2 linked regions of the Homo sapiens genome follow. The protein of the gene in region 2 purifies or fractionates together with the protein of the main gene of each other region. This does not show direct contact. Each region holds a gene or a part of one and is shown on either strand. Other genes may lie near its edges. The genes, in order: PPIP5K2 and URGCP.

What was found.
Region 1: the proteins of URGCP (region 2) and PPIP5K2 purify together in Homo sapiens (affinity purification with mass spectrometry, with the first as the bait; one large-scale study listed by BioGRID). This does not show direct contact.

The regions. Positions count from the first base shown.
Region 1 is NC_000005.10:103,151,225-103,155,050, reverse strand, and holds part of PPIP5K2 (inositol hexakisphosphate and diphosphoinositol-pentakisphosphate kinase 2), read right to left. Parts: intron 3,799-3,826; coding exon 3,677-3,798; intron 2,404-3,676; coding exon 2,302-2,403; intron 1,204-2,301; coding exon 1,117-1,203; intron 382-1,116; coding exon 306-381; intron 218-305; coding exon 108-217; intron 1-107. UniProt on the Homo sapiens protein: Bifunctional inositol kinase that acts in concert with the IP6K kinases IP6K1, IP6K2 and IP6K3 to synthesize the diphosphate group-containing inositol pyrophosphates diphosphoinositol pentakisphosphate, PP-InsP5, and bis-diphosphoinositol tetrakisphosphate, (PP)2-InsP4.
Region 2 is NC_000007.14:43,879,009-43,882,834, forward strand, and holds part of URGCP (up-regulator of cell proliferation), read right to left. Parts: intron 2,950-3,826; coding exon 2,899-2,949; intron 2,690-2,898; coding exon 2,651-2,689; intron 253-2,650; coding exon 1-252. Other genes in the region: URGCP-MRPS24 (uncharacterized protein LOC100534592), read right to left, coding at 2,651-2,689, 2,899-2,949. UniProt on the Homo sapiens protein: May be involved in cell cycle progression through the regulation of cyclin D1 expression. May participate in the development of hepatocellular carcinoma (HCC) by promoting hepatocellular growth and survival.

The sequences.
Region 1 (3,826 bases), on a different chromosome or scaffold from region 2:
AGAGTAAAAAGATCAGACTGTGAAAGTAATTAAAATGGAAAATCACATACATAAAAAAGAAGAGCTATATGTAGTACCACAATTAAGCGTTTCAAAAAGATACTCACATCTCTAATACAGTCTTAAGTTGTTCAAGTTTTGGCTTGTTTTCTTCAATTTCAGAATCATTATTTTGCCCTAGCTCCATAAGAAGCTGTCGTGCAATATCTAGCACTTCCTATAAAATAAATTAATAAAAAATTGAATTTTTATGTAATTTCACCACTAAAAAATTTAAAATTAAACAAGAAAGCAAATACACTTGCCTGTAACTGTTTTGGTTTTTTGAGTTTTAATTTCCCTGATTTATATCCATCACACTTTTCAAAAAGATCAAAAAATCTTATAAAAAAGACAGAACACTGTTAGTCACTTGCAATAATTAACATTACCAATATATGTTTAAACTAACAAATAATAAATGATAAGCTATGGGACTAGAACTTGGGATCTAAGGATTTCAAGTACTGTGTTTCCTCTTTCACTGTACATGTTGCTGCTCAACTTTGATTGATAAAACTTAGTACTTTCCTAAATGATACCAAACTAATAATCACCATACTACTTTTCAAAGTTTTTTCACGGAAACCAAACATACAATTATAGTTCATAATATTATATATTTTCTGAAGTCATTGCATATACATTGAAAATTACTTGTGTCAACACATACTTAATGGCTCAGGGTTTTCAAATTTTATCATCTCCAAACCAAACACTGGATAGAAATAACAGAAACTTTCATTCTACTAATTTTCTTCTAAAAGGCTGAGGGATTACTCACTCTCAGAATGCAATACAAGAGAGTGATAAGCAAAGATTAAATAGAACACCTTTATGACAATAAATGAAAGCCAGGGCAGACTGATGATATTTATGAATATTGCCACAATAATTTTAGATGCTAATGAACATATTTTAAATGGATTTTGTACCCACCCACTGGTTTAAATATAAATGGCCAAGAGACAGTAGATAAAAGTTTTTCTATATGATGTATTAATCAAAAGAGTTGATCACTTATCAGAAATCTTAAAATTGTATCATGCATGTTAAATTATTCATCTGAAAACATACTTCTGATGTCTCACTTCCATTTTCATTTTTTGTTTTGGTGTTCGATCCCCATGACGTATAACAGCTATGACACATCTAAGTTCCATCCTAAAATGAAAAAATATATATGTTCTTAATTCTCTAAAAAAGATTTGTGTTGTATAATTCAGATTAATATGAACATTTAGTCATCTATTTAAAGCCATCTTTTACCACTTCAAGATCTTTCCCATGAAGAATAATACTTATAACAATCTAGTTTTAACTTTATGAAATAAAATTCAAAAAGAACTTAAGAAGCTGGGGGAGGGAGGTGATATTAAGCTATATAGTAGAATACAACCTTTTCTTCTCTAGAAATGGCTACATTAACTCTGGGATAAAAGTAGATGGACTACAATTTCTGAGCTTTCTTATATATCTGATCCATAGCATTAGGTCACTACAGACTGAGACTTCATTAAATCAAAATAAAACTTTACATGATGGTTGCTATATTTATATATTTGCTAAGTTTTGCCCATGTAAGGAGAACAAGTATTTACAACTCAAATTACTGGAAGATAAAATCATCTTAGAAGCATGCTAGAATTCAGAGGTATAATCTAGTGTGTGCTGAAGTGTGAACTGCAGAACATAACCCTGCAGGATTATCAATTGAGTTACCTGAAAAAAATTTTATTTAACACTTGCGTGTTAAATCAGTATGAAAAATGCTGATTAAAAACAAAATTAGTTCCCCCCATCATCAGTACATCTCAGGATATTTAACATGTTAATATAAATATCTAAGTTGTGAAAAAAAAGCATTCAGTCAACTGACATGAATTTAAAGGAATAATTTTCAGTAAGAGAATGTTATAAAACATTTTGGCAATACTGGTATAATTATGCAAGATATGACTTGAGAGAGCAAAAGTTGTAAGACCACTATGAACCTTTAAGTAACATTCCTATTGGTACCTTTTTTATTTTTATGGCTTGATTAAACAATTCTATAATTATCCAGGCATGTTTCAGTAGTTTATTTGTAACAATTAGTGGACCCTTATAAATACGTATAATCTACTCCTCTATCTTCAAGCTGAATCATATGAAATCATACACACTAAAGTGTCTAATCATCATTCAGAAATTTAATTTTTATCCTAATAGCACAGATGGCAAGGAAAACTCAATTTCTAAATGAAAATAATTCAGACTTACATAGTTCCAGATGTAGTTGGTACAATTGGGATATCTTCAGCTTCTAAGGGTATTGACCATGGAATATGAAATTGTGGAGCAAGTTCTCGCATTACAATATTTCTTCAAGACAAAAAAGAAAAGATTTAAAATTAGTACGTTTTAAGACAAAACTGGGTACTTAATGAGGATGAGAGAGAATCATAAGAGTTAAACTATCTAGTGATTACATCACATAAAAGATAACCCACAGAATCCATTCTGATCAAGAAAAAATAAAAATCAGCAGTTCCAAATTGATGTATTAGACACATCAATGGGATTTCACAAATTTGAGATTATTTACTTTAGTTTTAAAATATCAATCAACATTGGATTCAAAGAAATCACTACAATTACATCACATCTAACTACATACATTCTGAAATTCAAGATTGTCTCTTCTGTGTGGCTACTGATAAATTCTTATCACTTTATTGAACATCTATAATGCTACTCTAAATATTGTGTTCATCTTAACAAATCACTACTATACTAATAGGGTTAAAAATGGAAAAATGTTTACTTTTTGGCTTTGTTTAAATTTAGCATTTATTTATGCTAAAATTTAGTAAACTCTCCCTTACATCACTTTAAGGGTAAGTTTGTAAATCTTTGAAACATACTGTGGGTTAAATGTTCTTAATCTGAAAATCTGAAATCCAAAACACTTCTGGTCCCATGCATTTTGGATAAGGGATACTTAACCAGTATAAAAGCTAGCTCCAATTATCGAACATTTTTTAATGTAAGTTTCCTATGGATTTGTCATATATACCTGGAAATGTCTTAAAAATAGTTATTGCCTTGCTAGTCTTCTGAATCAAGGTATAAAGAAAACAGGTTGAAGAATATAAAAATGGCATTTCTACCTACAATAATTTTTTTACATTCACTTGATAATCTTATGAAAATATCATCAAGTAACATATGCTTGTAGAATGAATTGTCATGCAAAAGAGTCATGAATTCTAAATATTTCTATTTTACTCTGTTTATTTCATGAATGTTAATTTTGTCCATTAAGTAGAAGAAAACCTTTTCCACTATAACTACATGGCAAAAATTTGAGGAATAAAGTATTCTAACAAATAAACTTTTGACTAATAATCAGCATGTTATAGTATTTGTAAACATATGAAGTTAAAGGTTTTCATCTATACTGATCATAAATTAATCTGTCTTTGATAAGCCAAAGTATAATTCAGGATCTGGCATAGTCTCTGGGGGTATCATTTTATGAACACTGATCTTTACTCTAGAATGCTTAAAAACCCTGATCATTTAATGTTAACAGTTATTTGGTTTCTGAATAACTAGTATATGAAGGTAAAAAGAAAAATTTAAAAATTCTTACCCAAGTATTTTTGCACAGTCATCATAATACTTCATGGAATTTTTCACAAAACTGAAGCCATTGACATCACAGACATAGGACTGTCCATTGGCCCGTAACAAATCAAAGCCACAAACTGTTTGCTATTTAAAATAAGTTATAAACTTTAAG
Region 2 (3,826 bases):
CCATCTGGCTCTCCTTCTCCACAGGCCTGGCGTCTGGGAGCACGTCCAGCACCATAGTGGTATTCCTGGCATCAGCATTGAGGGCCTGCAACTTCCTGAGGAAATTCCAGGGCAAGTCTTTGGGAACCTGAGGGGCCCAGTTCTTCATACTGTCAAAACTGATCTGCAGAGAGTCCTGGAGGCTGAGTTTCTGGACCTGGTACGTCTCTAGGCCCAAAAGTGACAGCATTTCTTGAAGCCTGCTTCTCTCCACTGTGGAAAGAAATGAAGACATAAGTGCTCACCCTGTGTTTCTGAGCTAGGGGCCAGGGAAGAGCTGGTGAAGGAGAGCCCAGCAGGATGGGGAGAGTGACGACCCCCTTCAGAGAGCAGAGTGCAGGCACAGGAGGCTCAGGGTGTGCTCAAGGCTGACCTGAGATCAAGGCAGGGCTGGAACCCGGACATCAAGGTACAATAGGTACCAACCTAACCACAGATATATGTGACATTAAACAAAAGAAAGAACAGAAATAAATAAGCTACATTTAACAACTGGAAGAGTTCTTGCAAAAGCCATATTTCTGGTCTTTCTAGAAACCTGTAAGATCTAACACTGAGCTCAAAATTAATTGGCTACAGTGAGCAGCACATGACTCCTACAAGCTGAATGCAGGCCTCACCTCCCCACTGTGTTGCTTCCGTGGGCTACTCAGAGTCACCGGGAAGTTCCCACAGGAGTCATAATCACTGAATCACTCTCTGGCTTTCTAGTTAATGTTTTTTTGTGTTTTTTTTCTCTCTAGAAATAAGAGAATATTTTAAAGGAACTAGAAAGAAATCACTAAGCATAAAGAGTCAGCAATTATAGCTAAACAACCATTTTGCAAACCTGAAATCAATAATGCAGGTTTTCTTTTTTTTCTTTCTTTTTTCCTCTCCCCTTTCTTTTTTTTTTAGACAGGGTCTTACTCTGTTACCCAGGCTGTAGTGCAGTGGCATGATTTCAGTTCACTGTAGCCTCAACCTCCTGGGCTCAAGAGATCCTCCCACCTCTGCCTCCCAAGTAGCTGGAACTACTGGTGTGTGCCACCACACCCAGCTCATCCTTGTATTTTTTTGTAGAGATGGGTTTTTGCCATGTTGCCCAGGCTGGTCTCGAACCCAGACTCAAGCAATCCACCTGTCTAGCCCTCTCAAAGTGCTGGGATTACAGGTGTGAGCCATGGTGCCTGGCTTTAATGCAGTTTTAAATTTTAAATGTATTAAAATATTCAGTGCAGACTGTTAGTAAGTGAGCACTTACTTGCGCAGATACTCAAATATCACCCTATACAATATAAGATCTTATAAGCTAGATGCTTGAAACAGTATTGCTACCTCTGAAGATTCCATTCACCATCCAGGTCTTGGCCCAGCACCTTACTAATGTTCATGCTGCATATTAATTAGTTGTCTTAAAATTTGTTGTTGTTTGAGGCAGTGTCTCACTCTGTCACCCAGGCTGGAAGGCAGTGGTGTGATCACAGCTTATTGCAGCCTTGATCTCCTAGGCTCAAGAGATCCACTCATCTCAGCTTCTGAGGAGCTGGGACTACAGGTGCACAAGACACTTGGCTAGTTTTTGTATGTTTTGTAGAGACGGGATTTTGCCATATTGCTCAGGCTGGTCTTGAACTCTCTGGCTCAAATGATCTGCCTGCCTCAGCCTCCCAAAGTGCTGGATGTGAGGCACCGTGCTGAGTCACTTTAAATGTTAATGCATGAAGTAAATACAAATTCCACTGCCCTGCAGCCTTTTTTCCAGTTCCTTTCTCGAGAGAGGAAGCAACGTGTATGATACTGCTTTGATGCTTAGATAAACCATGAAAGGAAACACTGGGTGACCCAGCCCTCTGCCTGTTTCCCAAGAAGGTCAAGTGATGGATTCAAGACCACTTTCCATACGACCAGCAGGACTCACAGTGCTGGACACTCTGCTCAGAGAGTTCCACAGGCATTGTGGCCACAGGACTGCCCCACAGAACATTAGGGGACCTATGAACTTGTTACAAAAACAAAAGTACTATATGGGAAGAGTCACATTGTGCCAAAACAGGTGTTACTCAGGTTTCCTAGCTTTGCCTGAATGAAACTAGGAACATTGTTTTTCTTGTCCAGACATGGAATAACTTTTTATTTTTTAAGTAGCATGGTAGTAAAAGGCAATGGGAAAAAGACAAAGAAAACACTTCTGCCCAGTGTGTGGCCCTTGGCAGGTTGTTTGGAAGCTCTGGGCCCAGTATCCTGATCTGCAAATGAAGGCGTTGGACCAGATAAATCGTTTCCAAACCGGGCTGTACATTAGAATCAATCACTTCAGGAACTTGTTAAAAAATGAAACATCTCTGGGTTTCACCTCCAAACATGCTAACTTATTAAAGGCAGTGAGTATGTTGGGTGGTGGAGGGGGGGCCTGGTTACTCTATGTGGTTAGCAAGCTTCCCAGGGTTTTTTTTTTTTTTTTTTTTTAGCAATATGGTTAACAATGTATAAAGGGTTAATGAAGTAGGGCATCCTAAACCTGAGTGCTCTGCCTCCCCAGGTGATTTGATACAGTCAGGTGTGGGAACTGCTGGCCTAGATGATAACCCCCTTTCATAGAACAGAGAGAAAAGGCAGAGAAAATGCTTACCTGTTGGAAAATCATTGTCCTGAGCCTCATTTGTACCATCTATGGAAAAAGCAATGGAAAATGAAGTGTCAATCAAATAATGCACCCTTGGCTGACACAAATTAATTGAAGCTAAACCTAGAACCCTTCTTTCTCACCAAGATGGCAACTTCTCCCAATTGTTCTAAATATAAAATCCCGGTTATCTGTCACTTTACCCACTCCCCCTCTCCCCAGTCCAATCTGTTGCCAAATCCTGTAGTTTCTACCTCCATAACGGAACTCGCAATCATCTCCTTCCATTTCTCTCCATTCCAAATCTAGAAGAAAAAAGAAACCAAATACATTTAGTTTCATCAGCAAGTTAGAACCTTTCTGTCAAAAATTTCAAGTGCTCATGCCTGTAACCCCAGCACTTTAGGAGGCTGAACAAGAGGAGTGCTTGAGTCCAGGAGTTTGAGACCAGCCTGGGCAACAAAGCAAGACCCTGTGTCTACAAAGACTTTTTTTAAAAAATTAGGCCAGGCATGGTGGCTCATGCCTGTAATCTCAGCACTTTGGGAGCCCAAGGCAGGAAAATCACTTGAGGTCAGGAATTTGAGACCAGCCAGCCTGGCCAACATGGCGAAAAACCATCTCTACTAAAAATACAAAAATTAGCTGGGCGTGGTGGCGCATGCCTGTAATTCCAGCTTGGAATTACTTGGGAGGCTGAGACAAAATAATTGCTTGAACCCAGGAGGCGGGGGTTGCAGTGAGCTGAGATCATGCCACTGCACTCCAGCCTGGGCGACAGAGTGAGGCTATCTCAAAAACAAACGAACAAACAAAAATTAGCTGGGCATGATGCCACGAGCCTGTGGTCCCAGCTGAGGCAGGAGGATTACTTGAGCCTGGGAGGTCAAGGCTGCAGTGAGCTGTGATTGCACCACTGCATTCCAGCGTGGGCATCAGAGCAAGACCCTGTCTCAAAAAAAAAAAACACCAAACAACAACAAAAAACGTCAAGTGACAATATGGTGGCTGATGTTTTAGTGCTATTATTGGTTTCAGTTTTTCCTATGTAAATGTAATGTTTTGCCAGCAAAAAATACATCACAAGGTAGTAATAGCTACACACAAGACACAGATTTGCTCTAGGATATATCTTTATAGAATTTTCTAAACTTTGGGAAAATAAAACATGAATAACCATAA